2 linked regions of the Homo sapiens genome follow. The protein of the gene in region 2 purifies or fractionates together with the protein of the main gene of each other region. This does not show direct contact. Each region holds a gene or a part of one and is shown on either strand. Other genes may lie near its edges.

Region 1 (7,637 bases), on a different chromosome or scaffold from region 2:
CTGTTACCAACCAAGCCCTCCAGAGCCCAGCACTGTAGGCCGATGGCGGCCTTCCCTGGCCTGCTCCTGGGGCAGGTTGCTGAGAAGCATTGCCTGTTTTGGGGAGAGGCCTGCGGCAGCCTGAGGAATGAGCCTGGCAGTGGGCACTCTCACTGGGGCCTCCTCCGGCGCTGCCCTCAGGAAGATTCTGTGGCTCCCAAAGCCCCAGGGGCGCCTCTGACCACAGCAGTCAGTCCTGCCGGGTTGGGGGGGGCTCTTGTGCCCAGCGTAACTTCACAGAGCCAGCACGTTCCAGCCTGGGAGGGAAACCAAAAGGCACTTTGCCCAAGTGTCACCGGGCTGAAACGACATCCTCATGGGCCCCTGTCCCCGGAAGCAATGAGATTGGACAGGTGCTGAGCCCCTGTTACTTCATTGGGATGGACTTGCATCTAAGGAACGAACTGAGAGTGAACATTTCCAAATTTGAGGCCTAAGAAAAGTTTGTTGGCCTGATGAGCTGTGACAGGCAACCGTCTGGGGAAGTGGAAGCTCAGCACATCCTCCGGTTACTTATTACGTTACTGAAGGGTCTAAAAATGACTGTCCTTGGGGTGCTGGAATCCTGCAGAATAAAATAGTGCTGAATTTTAATTCATTCTTTGCAAATGAATGTTCTCAAGGCTCCGGTTGGAGTCAGGCACCCTGGGACCTTGCAGTAGTGTGCTTTGGGTCCCAGGCCACAGCACAGCCCCTTTCTTTTTTTTTTTCTTTTTTGAGATGGAGTCTTGCTCTGTCGCCCAGGCTGGAGTGTAGTGGCGTGATATCGGCTCATTGCAACCTCTGCCTCCCGGGTTCAAGTGATTCTCCCGCCTCAGCCTCCCGAGTAGTTGGGATTACAGGCGCCCGCCACCAAGCCCAACTAATCAGCTAATTTTTTTTTTTTTTTTTTTTTTTTGAGACGGAGTCTAACTCTGTCGCCCAGGCTGGATGGAGTGCAGTGGCGCAATCTCGGCTCACTGCAAGCTCCGCCTCCCAGGTTCACGCCATTCTCCTGCCTCAGCCTCCCAAGTAGCTGGGACTACAGGTGCCCGCCACCACGCCCGGCTAATTTTTTGTATTTTAAGTAGAGATGGAGTTTCACCATGTTAGCCAGGATGGTCTCGATCTCCTGACCTCGTGATCCACCCACCTCGGCCTCCCAAAGTGCTGGGATTACAGGCATGAGCCACCTCATCTGGCCTTTTTTTTCTTTTTTTTAGAGACGGAGTCTTGCTCTGTCGCCCAAGCTGGAGCATAGTGGCTCAATCTCGGCTCACTGCAACCTCTGCCTCCTGGGTTCTAGCAACTCTCCTGCCTCAGCCTCCCGAGTAGCTGGGATTACAGGCACATGCTGCCATGCCCAGCTAATTTTTTGTATTTTTAGTAGAAACGGGGGTTTTACCATGTTGCCTAGGCTGGTCTTGAACTCCTGACCTCGTGATCCACCCTCCTCGGCCTCCCAAAGTGCTGGGATTATAGGTGTGAGTCACCGCATCCAGCCCATAGTCCCTTTCCTCTCTGGGAGTCTCTGGTGGCCCCTTCATAATGCTTTTTTTTTTTTTTTTTTAATTCTTGGTACATTTTCTATGTAATCATTTCAATAACTGACTGTCCAGTAGAGTCTTTAGTTTTTCTGTATCCCTTCCCAAATTTAGAAACCTGACTTGAACTTTGGGCCAGTTGTAATGTGTCCTCTATGACAGGCCATCCTGGGCCCCCTTCCCTTTGTTCCTGTGGCTGGAGCCCTGAGCAGGCCCCATCCACTTGAGTCCAAGAGGCCCTCTCTCCTGGCTGCTACCATTGTACCCACCTGCTGGCCAGGCCCCCACAGGGGCCTCTTTCCTCCTGACAGTCTCATCCCCACTCAGCAGCCAGAGTGCCTTCTTTATAAATGTAGATCAGATCCTTTCACTGTATTTGTTCATCCAACACACATTTACTGAGCACCTACTGTGTGCTAGGCCCTGGTACGGGCACAGGAAACACATCAGGGAATAAAACTACACTCTCTGCTCTCCTGGAGCTTCCATGCTAGTGGAGAGAAGAAAGATACGTAAACATGTAATGAGTCAGGTGGTGATGAGTACAAAGGAGAAAAGTAAAGCAGAGAAATGGAGTAGAAAGTGCTGGCAATAGTGGGTGGTGGTGGTGGGGGGTGTGGTTTGCAATTTTCAACAGGGGTCCTCAGGCCTGACTGAGGAGCTGAAGAGGTAAGAGAGTGAGCCACGAGGCTAAGTGGGGTGAAAGAGTTGGAGCAGAAAAGGTGGGAGGATCACCAGGCATGATGGCCCCTCTCTGTAGTCCTAACTACTAGAGACAGGCTCATGCCTGTCATCCCAGCACTTTGGGAGGCCGAGGCAGGTGGATCATCTGAGGCCAGGAGTTCAAGACCAGCCAGACCAACATGGTGAAACCCTGTCTCTACTAAAAATACAAAAATAAGCTGGGCGTGGTGGCACATGCCTGTAATCCCAGCTACTTGGGAGGCTGAGGCAGGAGAATTGCTTGAGCCTGGGAGGCAGAGGTTGTGGTGAGCCAAGATTGCCCCACTGCACTCCAGCCTGGGCAACAGAGTGAGATCCCATCTCAAAACAAAACAACAAAAGCTAACTACTTGAGAGGCTGAGGTGGGAGGATTGCTTGAGCCCAGGAGTTTGAGGTTGCAATGAGCTACGATCACACCACTACACTCCAGCCTGGGCCACAGAGTGAGACCCTGTCTCAAAAAAAAAAAAAAAAAAAAGAGTCCCAGCAGAGAACAGCAAGCACAAAGGCCCTGAGGCAGGAGTGCACCTGGTGTGTTTGAGAACCCACAGAGACACCACTGTGGCTGGAGCAGGGTGAGATGTGGGAAGGGAGTGGCTAAGGAAGCTGAGAGGTCAAGGAAGAAGTGTGGTTGGAGCAGGCCCTGCAGGTGCCGAAGGCTTTTGCTTCTTTCCTGAGATGGCAGCCCTCACGAGCCCTGGAGCTTCCCTGGCTGCCATGAGATCAGGTGGAAGGGGGTCGAGGCTGCAAGTGGGGACGCATGAGTGGGTGACAGGTGGCAGTAGTAGAAGTGTAAGAAGAGCTGGGAGTCTGGGTCTCTTCTATCTTGAAAATAGAACCCCAGGCTGTGCTGGTAGAGCTGGATGCAGGGTGGAAGAAGGGAAAATATTTTTGCTGCTTAAATCCTAGCCTGGCTTCCCATTGCTCGTGGGGTGCATTCTCGATTCCTCTTCCCCGCCTGAGGTCTGACATGTGCTGGCCCTGGCTGGCCTCTCCTGTACCTTCTACCACCAGCTCCAGCTCATGGCCTGATGTGGTTCCTCCCCCGAATCCAGCGACCAGGCTGCCCTCTGCCCCAGCGCCTCCTCCGTGGATGTCTGCTCTTCCTGAACTGCCCTCCCACCGGACGGCTGCTCCTTGGTAGCAGCTCAAGTGTCCTTCCTTCCCTAAGCCAGTTTCCCCAAACACTGCAGCACAACGCCCTTCATTTCTCATGGCATTCTTCATGGCCTGTCAATGGGGCTTTTGTTGTTTTAATTTTCCGTCTTCTTGTTTTTGTTGGTCTTCCTAGAATATAAACCCCATGAGGGCAGAGGCGTTCAGCCTGACTCCAGCCTGGCAAAGCTGTCACAAATCTGGAGGAACACACACGTTCACGGGCACTCAGTTCTGTGAGGTACTGCAAGCCCTCTCTGAACCTGCAAGGTGGCCATTGCTGTCCCCACTTTACAAAGGAGGAAAGAGTGCGCGGAGAGGTTCTACTTAGACCCGCCAAGGGCACAGTCGTTCTAGAAAGTAGCAGACTGGGAGTTCCAACTTGGGCTTGCTGGTTCCAGAGCCCCTTCTGTGCCCCTTCCAGGCTGTGCCTGGGTGAGATTCTTCTCCTACCAGCACGTCTTCTTCCTGGAGGGTTCAGTGGCTGAGCTGACACCGGTGGGCAAGAGGCCCTGGCGGGCTTGTTGAAGGACTCAAAGGTGGCGTCTGGGAGCCTGGCGGGACTTTCTCCCTGTCAGCCTAGAGGCACTTTTAGAGGAGTGTGTCTGTTTCGCAGTCTTCGTGTCTCATAATTCATAACTAAGGTAGAGGGTACACATTTAGTTTACAGTAAAACCTCAAACCCACCTCCACTCCCAGCCGGCCACTTCTCTCCCTGTTCCCTTCTCTGCCCTCCACAGGTGAGAACAAGTGTCCGGGGCCGCCCCGTGGGGCCCCAGGCTGCCCGCCCTGAAACTGCCTCGCTGTGTGCCCTTGGGCAACCCCGCCCTGCTCCGTGCCTCAGTTTCCCCACTCATAGAGGCTCCACAGGTGACACACCTGGCTCCGGGCCCCGATCGGCCGCCGGGCCCCGCGGGGCGGAAACCCCGCGCCAAGCCTCCCGGAGGCACCTCCAGGGCAGGGCGGGGAGCGCGGGGAGGGGCCGCGGGGACCTGCGCCGCTGGGGCCGCCTGGCCGCCGGCCGGCTCCGGGGGGCGCCCGCGGGAGGGCGCGGCCGGTGCGGGGGGCGCGGGTGGCGGCGGCGGGGGGCGGAGACGCGGCGCGGCTTCCGCTCCCGCGCGCCCAGCTCCCTCCTCCCCGTCGTCCTGGTCCGCGGCGCCCGAGGGGGGAGGCGGAGGCGCCGGGAGCCGCGCGAGGAGCCGCCGCCGCCGCGCCATGGAGCCCGAGTGAGCGCGGCGCGGGCCCGTCCGGCCGCCGGACAACATGGAGGCAGCGCCGCCCGGGCCGCCGTGGCCGCTGCTGCTGCTGCTGCTGCTGCTGCTGGCGCTGTGCGGCTGCCCGGCCCCCGCCGCGGGTAGGTGGGCGCAGGCCGGCCGGGGGCCGCGGGTTGCTCGGACAATGGCCCGGGCGGCCCCGCGGCCAAGTGCGCGGGCGCCGCCGCCGTCTCGGAAGCGACTTGGCGAGTTGGGAGCGAGTTGGGGCGCGCGCCCGGGATCCCCCTGCCGTCCCCGGCGTCCCCGCCACGCGCGGGCCCTTTGTCTCCCCACCCGGGCCCTCCCCGGGGACGCTGCGTCCCGGGCTGGCGAGGAGGGCGCCCGCTCCGCCAGGTGCGGCGCGGGCGGGTCCTCACCTGCCCGAGCCCGCGGGAAGCCGGGAGCCGAGCCGAGCCCGCGCTGGGCCCGTGTGGCCCGGGCCGGGCACCGAGCGGGGACTTGGGGCGCGGAGGCGGGCCTGGCCCGGGGAGCCGGTTCGCAAGCCTGTTTCCAGCGGCCGCGCGGCCGCCCCGCGTGCTCCGAGGACGGGCTGAAGTTGCAGCGAGAAAGTTCTGAGCCCGGGCGCGGGGCGGCCTGGCCGGTGGCGCTGCTCCTGTGAGCCGCGTGGCTGTGGGTTTCCAAGCGGACTGACACCTGCCAGGTGCCCGGGCGACCCGAATGCCCCGTGTGGCCGCCGGGTCCCCAGATAGTGTCCATCCCCGGGTCGGCTACGCGGAGGTGACGTGGTCCCAGATCGCGGGGCAGTGGGGGAGGCAGGCTTGTGCCTCAGTTGTACACTCCCGTGGGGAGAGGTAGGGCGGGGGAACTTTCTCTCCAACTTTTGGTGTTTCCCAGGGGGTGGAGTTGAGGTCAGGAGGACTCAGGAAACTTAAGCAGTCGTGAAACGCTACACATGTTCTTTTAATTTGGAGATTGCCATGTGGTTTTTCAAGCAAGCCTCTTGCTACCTAAATCATTCTCTTCGGATGTGCGTGTTTTGTTTTTCTGGAGTATGGCTGGCCAAGTGGCACGGCCGCAAGTGCCTGTGCACGCCGCGGCTCCTGTTCTGTTTGTGGCAGTTTAGCGGGGAGGACCTCGGGCCCCTTTGTCTGGGCCTCCTTAAGGCAAACAGCTGTCTCCCTGAATATTTCCAGTGTGAATGGTGCAGCGGGGTGGCCCTGTAGTCAGATCCCCCAGGCTGCAGCCTCTGCTTGGAGGTGTGGGGGACAGCGGGGAACAGGAGGAGCTTGGAGTTTGTTTCACGTCCTCCTGCCTCTGACCCAAGCCTAGAGATTCTATGGACAGTTTCACCCCAAATCTGCCTCTTTCAGGAGCGTGTTTACATTGTGGGGCCTTGTCTGGAGCTAGCAAAACAAGGTGAAGACAAAACAGCGACAGTATCTGGGGAGTACAGGCCAGCGCCGCTCCTTTTTCCGGAAATGCCTGGGTCAAGGAGGCAAAAGGGGTTTTGGGGAAACTGTTTGTTTTAAAGGGGGGGTTTCTAGGCCGACCGCGTTGCCTTTCACCTCATTGCAGTTTTGGGTTTTGTGCACGTTTTGGGGTGATGTTGCTGGAGTCAAATGCCTGTCGTCCATGTGGTTCGAGCCCCTGAGGAGAAAGAATTATAGCTGTAGAGTTCAGTTGTGTGTGAGGCAAAAATAGAGTTGATTATTTTAACATTAGGCAGCAAGGCCTGGGAGCCCCAGTGAATGTGGTGATCCAGGCCTAAAATGGAAGGAAAGGGAGGAATCTTTCTGCAGAACGGTTTTGATGTTATATCCCTGGTTTTACTGTGTGAAATACATGCCTCGGACCTCAGCGAAGCCAGTAAGTGGGCCGCTAATTATTTTTCCTGATTGCTTCCTGTTGCAATTGGAAGCTGTGAACGCACGGAAATGGCTTTGTTCTAGTGGTCCCAGTGCTGAGAACTTCCCCAGCTCCCAAGCCCTAGTCCTCTCTCCTCGGGGCCCAAGTGCTTGTTCCAGGGCCGGCCTGTCCAGGCACCCCCTCTCCCCCTGGAGGTTCCTCCTGTAGATGCCCAAGGCCAAGGCCGGGCCCTCTGGGAGAGCCCAGAAGGGCTGAGTGGGGTTAACCAAGTGCTGTGTGGAGCACCCTGAGAGAGTCCCCTCCAAAGCAGGGCCCCGTGTGTTTAGCTCCCCTCTTCAGTTCCAAGAAATTCGCCGGTGAACCCGATCCAGCATTTGTTCAGCACTTTCCTGGGGAGATTCACCTCGTGCTTCCTGTCGTTTTTGGAACCCGTTTAATTTCAGCCGTGCTGTGTCACTGCTCAGGCATTTAGTAGAACTCACACACACGGGTGGGGGATGTAGGCAGGTGAGGCCTCTGAGTTGCTTTCTCCCTTGCAGCGACGGGTTGCAGGGCTGATGGGGGTGGAGGGGTTTGGGGTCAGACCCACCTGGGTTTACATGCTCAGTGGCTGTTTGACTTCGGGCACCATACCTAGTTTCTGTTATCTCACCCCGTTCCTCTCCCAGGCTATGGGGAGCCCTAACTGCCCTGTGTGAGACCTTTAGCCCCATCCCTGGCAGAGCTGCAGTGAGCGCAGTTGTGTGTCAGCGTCCTCGATCTTTCTGGCCCCAGCCGGTCTAGAGGCTGTTATTACAATAGTCTGGATTTTTCCTGTATGACCTTGGACATCCAGTCCACTGACAAACTCACTCACTCACCGCTGCAGCCCTCGGGGGCAGGAGTAGTTAGTTAGCACTGTGGACAGAGCCCCTGCGCCCAGGGTCTGATTCCAGCCTGGCCGCTTCCTGTGCTGGGAGGCTTAGGAAGCTGATGCTACCTTTGTGTGCCTCAGTTTTCTCACCTGTAAAATGGGAATAGAATCCTTCCTACCATGAATTCAGTGAGTTAACGTGCACCTGGCCCGGTATAATGCTGTTGCTGTTTTGCTTTGGTGTCTGCTACCGAGTGAAGTGC
Region 2 (7,240 bases):
ATACCATGCTTGCTATGGCAGGAGGTAAATCATTATGTTTCCAGATCTCTCCTTGACTGGAAAATCTTAATGCTTTCTCCTTTTTCCTGTTTATTCCTGATGTTACAATGATTTCTTCTTAAATTTTAGAAAGGAATTTCTACTTTGTACAATGCCACATTCTGTATCCTATAGATCGACTTCTGGTAATCAGGCCTTTGTTTCTCTCTTGTATTCACATTTTTTTATTGTCAATTTCTTCTACTGAAGAAATCAGCCTTTTATTTCCTGATTAGAATTCACTTTAAATGTCACTACACAGATAAATCAATATGTGAAGGTGAAAATGACTTGAAGAGCTTTGTCAAGGTAAGTGTTCTATATCAGACGTTATGGGATTTTTGAAACCAGAAGGATCCTTAGGGCTTATGGAGTTCAATGACCTCATGCACTGCAGATGAGGAAACTGAGCCCAGGAAGAGAAGACTTGCCCAACTTAACGTGAACAAATCCTGTTCTCCAAGACTCTTTCTATTTCATAGCACTAATGCAAGGAAGCTTTCTAAAAGTGATTTTAAATTTTTAATAGTTGTTTTTATTTTTCTTCCCAGCAATATCTGGATACGGTGGGTTTTATCTTCTCTTTCAAGAGTTCTATTACTCTTTTCTTCTGGTTCAGTGGGCCGGCTTGTGTTCACTTGACCAGGAATCAACATAAATCGCATTCTATCATTTTTTTCTAGTTTTACTCGTATGCTGCAAAATAAAAGCAAGATAAGATAAAGGGAAACTACTGTAGCTACTGGACTATCCTCTATTGACTTGTGTAAAAATATCTCTTCCCAGATAAATAAAACCCTGCTTTCCCTCAAAAAATAGTTGGAGGCATAAATAAGAAGGTTCAGAGGTATTTGCAACACCCACATGACCTGGCATATTGTGCTAAATGCATTTCTGCTGAATTTTGACTTTGGCCATTAATTAAGCCAAGTCATCATTAACACCGGCATAATTAGAGAAAAGCATAAACTCAAAAATAGCAAGAAGTATCCCTTAGCAGTGTCATGCTGATACCTTAAATTAGTTTTGTTTTGTTTTGTTTTGTTTTTGTTTGTTTGTTTGTTTTTGGTACATAAGGAAACCAGGAAAATATCCTTTCTTACTCTTTTCCTACCTCTCTACCCCAGGTCACCTTACACACATTTTTCATCTCTATGAGCAGCTCACTGAAGTCATTCTTTATACTACTAGTTATACTTTCAAAGTTAAGTTTAACTTTATTGTTGTGCTTAGCCTAGCGGTATCAGCATTGTATGCCTTTTCCAAATAAACCTGAGAATGATGAAGTCTTCCTTCTATGAAGGCACTTTTGCTATTGAATGTACCTTGAGATTTGATGCAGAAACCACGTTTATGGACCATAATTGTTACCAACCTATTCATTAAAGGATCAACAATACATAAGCTTCACACTTGCCCAGAAACAGTCAATAGTTAAACATTTTAAGAAATTGAAAGAACTAAACAAAATTAATAGACTGGAGAGTTTAGAAACATGCTGTTAATCAATGTTTTAGAAATAATTCACTGTGTAAAATTAAATTAGTTTAACTACAAAATTAAAAGGTAATATTTTCACATAACAATATAACTCCCAATCAAATGGCATGAGAACATGCATCTTATACTGGTGCTTGGTATACATTTTAGGTAATTTTTTGATCCTTTATTCATCAACCTTGGATATTAACAATATTCAATTTTCTATAATAGTAATTCTTCAAATTTTTAAAATCAGTTTTAAACAGAGGTCTAGGAATGAAAGACAGCCACAGTTCTAAATATTTGATTTGCTGTGATAGATAAGTGAATAAAATAGATTCTAAAGACTGGAAACCCCATAATGGACTAGCAATGCCTAGTAGCTCATCAATCAAGCAAATTCAATAAGTTGATCTGATCATGCCCAATTCCCCCGTTAGCTACTAAAACTTTTCAATTTATGCCCATTTTAAGCATAGAACTATATTCAAATACAGTTCTAATGATATTCTTGCTCAACTTCTGAAAGGCACAGGCTAAAAAATTTGCATGTTTTGCAACAGCCTAGAAGTAGAGTTCATGTATTATCAGGTTGGCCTGAATTTCCTCACTGCTGTGATATAATGGATAGTACCAACTCCAAGAATTCATAGAACATGGATGGATACACAGGGAACCAAACCAAGAGCGAGTAAGTTAAATGGTTAGTTCATTCAAGGAGCGCTCATCAATTGCCTACCAGGCATGTGTCAGTTAAATACAGCTCAGGGAACACTAGCTTGTTTCTTTCAACTCAGGAAACATTTATTCTATTGGAGAATGAGGATTTTCCCCATATGAAGGACTGACTCTGGGTTAAAAGTTAATAACAAATCAGCAAGTTGTATTACAATGGTTTGCTTGTGGAATGATTTGTTTACTCTTTTTCAATTTTCCAAATTTTCAATAGTGTGTTTATATGGCATTGATAACTTTAAAACTCCTTTACAATTAAGCTGAAATAAAAAGAAATCTATAAAACAAAAAAACCCCAGCAAATATACAAATTTTAAAAATTAAACTCTTATGTCTATTCAAGTCCTTTGCCCATTTGTATCAGGTTATTTGACTTTTTGTTGCTGAGTTATAGGAGCTCTTTATATATTCTGGATATTAATCATATCAGAGATCTAACATTGTCAAATTCATAGAAGCAAAAGGTAGGATGGTAATTACCAAGTGCTAGAGGGGAGAGGAAAAGGGGGAGCTGTTTGATGGACAAAGTTTCAGGTTTGCAAGATGAAGAAATTCTGAAGATCTATTTTAAAGCAATGTGACTGTATGTTAACACTACTGAACTGTACATTAAAAATGATAAAAATGTGGTGTTTACCCCAATTTTTAAAAATGCATGAAAATAAAACACTTGTGACAGAATAATAAATCAGCTTCTGTTTAAAAAGAAACCTGCATCAGGCAAACAAGTCCTATAATGGTAATTCTTCAAAGAACCAAAGTTCACTACTACCAGATGTGTTATTACTAAACCATTAATAAGAATAAGACCTACTGGAAGTGCATAAGGCTAATATTTCAGTTTCAGCAAAAGCAACAACAAAATTCTAATGTCGTAATAAGGTAGGTTTAACTAGTTAATGCTTTTAAAAAAATAGTTGAGTTTTTCTTTGTTAATTTATAGAAATCATCTGAATGCAAAATAAGCAATCAAGGATTCATTTATTTTTATTTGCCCTAGTTTGGTCAAATTGTTGATAGAATAATGTTTAGAACTAATTTTTAAACCTGAATGAACCATTTTTATTTTTTCTTTTCTCTCTCTTTCTTTCTTTCAAGACAAGGTCTTGCTCTGTTGCCCAGGCTGGAGGGCAGTGGCAGGATCAGAGCTCACTGCAGCCTTTTACTCCTAGCTTCAAGTGATCCTCCCGCCTGGGCCTCCCAAAGCCTGGTGTTTCCTTTAATGATTTAAAAATGTTATTCTAGTGTTGGTCTTTGCAAAGCCCTTTAAAACCGCCAACTTCAGCTTGTTCGATTTTGAAATGCGTGGCCTGAGAAATCTCCTAGGTCTTGAACATTATAAATGGGTACTATGCTCATTTTGAGGGAGCCCTGGTTTACACAAACCTGCTGCTGAACTTAGCCGTACTTACAACAAGCACTTTATTGATCTATTATAATTGATGTATTAAAATAAACAAACGAACATCACCTCCTGTCTGTAAAGCAAAACACATTTTGACTTTGGAGTTAACGTTTGCGACAGCCTTCTAACCTATGGACGTGTTCCTCAGAACTGGGTTTCTAGAAAAGCTAGGAGAAGACCCCAGCGCAGGGGAGAGGAGAGGGCGAATTGGGAAAGAACTGCTAGGGTAATCACTTCCTCGACTGGGCATGGGGTGGCACCTGAGCCCTGGCACGCGGGGCTGGGAGGGCGAGTCGCCAGCGGAGGCGAGGCCAGAAAGTCAGAGGAAAGAGGGGACCAGAGAGCCACAAAGGCAGAGCTGGAGAAGGCAGGGCGGGCAGCGGGGGCGAGGGAGAGAAAAAGAGGGAGGCGGAGCTGCCCGGGCGGGCGGGGGCGGGGGCGCGGGCGGGAGCGGGCGCGGAGGCGGCGCCGCAGCCCCAGCCGGGCCGGACGCGGGAGGGTCAGGGCCAGGGTGAGCGCCCGACTCCGAGCTGTCCCCGCTCCCGGCGCGGCGCTCCGCTCTCAGCCACCTCACGGCTGCCAGGAGTGCGCGGGAGTTTGCCCCGGAGCGCGGGGAAGTTTCCTCCGAAGCTGCGCTCCTGGAACAGCAGCACCTGCAAGCGCCCGGCAGCGGCCCGCGAGGTAACCGCGCTGGGGCTGGGGTTGGGGCTGGGGGGCACTGGAGGGGCAGAGATGATGGCGCGCTGCTGGGTACCCGCGCCGGGAGCGGGCTCTGGTGGGCGGGGACGTGCGCCCTCACCTTTCCAGGTGCTTCGCCGCTGGAGATGCGGGAGGCTTCTTCCTTTTTCTATCTCCCCTACCTCCAGTATTCCAACCCACTTCCCTTCACTTCAGTGGACGCATGGCGGGAGGTGGGGGGCGGGAGCAGGAGGGGATCCTGACTTTGAGGGGGCGCTGGAGAAGGACGGCCGCCTGAACTTGTCAGCTACCTGAGTTTCCTTCCTGCGCCCCGGCGGGGCACCCTGGACTCCAGGATTCCGGGGTCAGACCCCTCTTGGGGCATGCAGAGGTTGGAAAGAGGACGGCAGGAACAGTCTTTAGTTTCTGCTGCCAGTCTGTCGGGTCCTCCAGGGTGTGTGGCAGAAAGACGAGCATCTCTGCTGCGGGGGTGCCTCCTTTGCGTCAGTCTCAAACTCCGCGACCTGGCTCAGGCTCAGGCGCAGGCTGCGGGAGAGGTGGGAGGGAAGTTAGGGGGACCGGGAGGCCAGGTGCGATCGTGGCCAGAGCAGAGGGGTTGGGAGGGGCGATCTGAGGAGGGGCTCCAAGTGGGTTGCGGGGAGAAGGAATGGTGTGTTTGTTTCTGCTGCTGTTACTTTCACAGGGTTGCCTGCTCCCTCTTCTGCCCCGTTTGAACATCCTGCCTATCAGCATGTTTCTGTTAGAAGGTGTTATGGTTGATGTCTGTCAGGAGTTATTTCCAACTAAGTTCACAGGTGCTAAGTCTAGAGCTGCAGGCCTTCCTCCTTTCTCTCTCTCTGCGGTCCACCCCCAGCTCCCTCCCACAAACATACTGTGCCTGAATAATCCCCAGCGTTTTGAAAGCGATGGCAAGTGAATAATACACAATGTGTGTGTGTGACTTTTTTCTCCCTATTATGCTATCAGATCCAAATCAAAACGCCGTGGATGCTTAACAGGACTCCCTTTTCGCAGTTTTTCTGATAATTGAGAGTATTACCAATGTTTATTTTTCTTCGCTTTAACCTCAGAATTGCATTAATCTATCTTTGTACAATTTTATTTACATTGTTATTATTCCTCTCGGTTTGAAGGACAGGGGCCTCTTTTCAACTCACATATACACATCCAAATGCATTGTGACCATATTTAGTATTTATCTGTCTTCTGATTCAGTTGGCTGGCACCTGTTAATTCCAGTACCTAATCATAACACCATATGCCTGCCAACCAACGTGAGGATAAGGTGAATGCTATTGTTTTTCATGGGCAAGAGCACCCTGAACTACCACTTTTTATTATTGCTCAAAGGGTGTAAGAGCTTCAATCAAAGTGAATCAAATTTACAAAACAATATTACAATTCTACACCATACGATCAAACAGTATGATTCCTAGGCACTTACAGCTGACTAGTAATTGAGGAAAAATTAAAATCCTCTCATCATATGGAAAACATTTAGATTGCATATCGTCAATAAGAAATAGCACACACTGAATGCCCCCAGAAAACGAGAAGAATGTTCCTCTTACCTCATTTGGTTTTTATCCCCTTCATTACAGTACCGTCCTCCAGAAAATGAGCACCTTGCATATAGATGTTGGTATGTACTAACTAAACACCATATTTTTTAATACAGAGGCTTGGTGATAGTCCAAAAACATAAATGTTTTAAATCATTACCAACCATCTGTTCTCTCCCACTCACTTACAGCACAATGTTTTATTTTCACAGGTATCAAAACGTACTTACTCATTTCATACATTCCCATGACTATCCTGAAAGCTGTAATGGTATCCAATGTTGACTCAAGTTCAGTAACTGTTGTGTTTGGCTTATTACACCATAAGCTCTGCTTCTTTTATTTTCAATGAAAGAAGACATTCTAAAAGTTTCAAAGCACTTGGCCAAGGCTGGTGTATACTCCAGTAAAAATCTGATTGCTTTCCCCCCACCCCCCACCTTTTTGTTAACAGAGAGAAGCTAGAAATTAGTGCAGCTGCAGGGCCCTCCTGATGACCTTCTTTTCCTTTCTTCCTGGTCACAAGGGTAGCATTTGATGCTCTGAAGAAGTGCATTAAAAAGCCCTGTGACTTCAGAAACTTAGTATGGTTTCCAGGAGAATGTAACATCTTCCAAGGAAGAATTTACAAAATAAGAGACTAACTTACTCTTACAAATTCCAAATTCAGTAAACCTAAGAAATACACATTGTTTCCCACATCAGTATTGCATATGAATAGCATAGGATGTGAGATAGGATATGAATAACATGTTTACCTGTTATTATATACTTTATATTTGTATTTGGGAATCTGGATGAGTTGGGATGTAATCAGCAGATAGATTCACACTCTTTGTTTGGTTGATGTCATCAATAAAGCAAGATTTGAGATATTCAGTTCCCTATCCAAGAAAGATTTCCCATTTAGGGGTGTTTGCTCTAATTAGAGCTTCAATATTACGGTATTTTATCATTCCAAATTAAGTTACATAATACATCCTTTGTTCCTTTAGCCTAGCCAGCACATTAGGAAAATTCTTTTCACTCAAATATGGGTGCAATGTCCCAAAGCATTTTCATATTTTTTGAGGAAAAAGATAGTGATGATCTTTTTCACACTTTGCAAATAATTGATGTGTACTTGAAGATTATCAGGAACCAAGAAAAAGTGGGCCATTATCACCAGCTACAGTGTTCTATACTGCTCTTTTCCCTGAAAGCGTTAAGATTCTCCTAACTTAGAAGAATGGCTTTGGACAGAATAAACCCAAACTACAGATAATTTTGAAAGTAAAGTTGCCTTTAAAAATATAGTCTAATTAAAACCTTTGGATAT

Evidence for each region. The genes of interacting proteins can lie anywhere in the genome.
Region 1: the proteins of CHST9 (region 2) and LRP5 purify together in Homo sapiens (affinity purification with mass spectrometry; 3 studies listed by BioGRID and IntAct, with this or other methods). This does not show direct contact.

Annotation. Positions count from the first base shown.
Region 1 is NC_000011.10:68,308,011-68,315,647, forward strand, and holds the start of LRP5 (low-density lipoprotein receptor-related protein 5 isoform 1 precursor), read left to right. Parts: upstream 1-4,580; 5' UTR 4,581-4,704; coding exon 4,705-4,795; intron 4,796-5,438; exon of another isoform or gene 5,439-7,637. UniProt on the Homo sapiens protein: Acts as a coreceptor with members of the frizzled family of seven-transmembrane spanning receptors to transduce signal by Wnt proteins.
Region 2 is NC_000018.10:27,182,238-27,189,477, reverse strand, and holds the start of CHST9 (carbohydrate sulfotransferase 9), read left to right. Parts: upstream 1-4,169; 5' UTR 4,170-4,342; intron 4,343-7,240. UniProt on the Homo sapiens protein: Catalyzes the transfer of sulfate to position 4 of non-reducing N-acetylgalactosamine (GalNAc) residues in both N-glycans and O-glycans.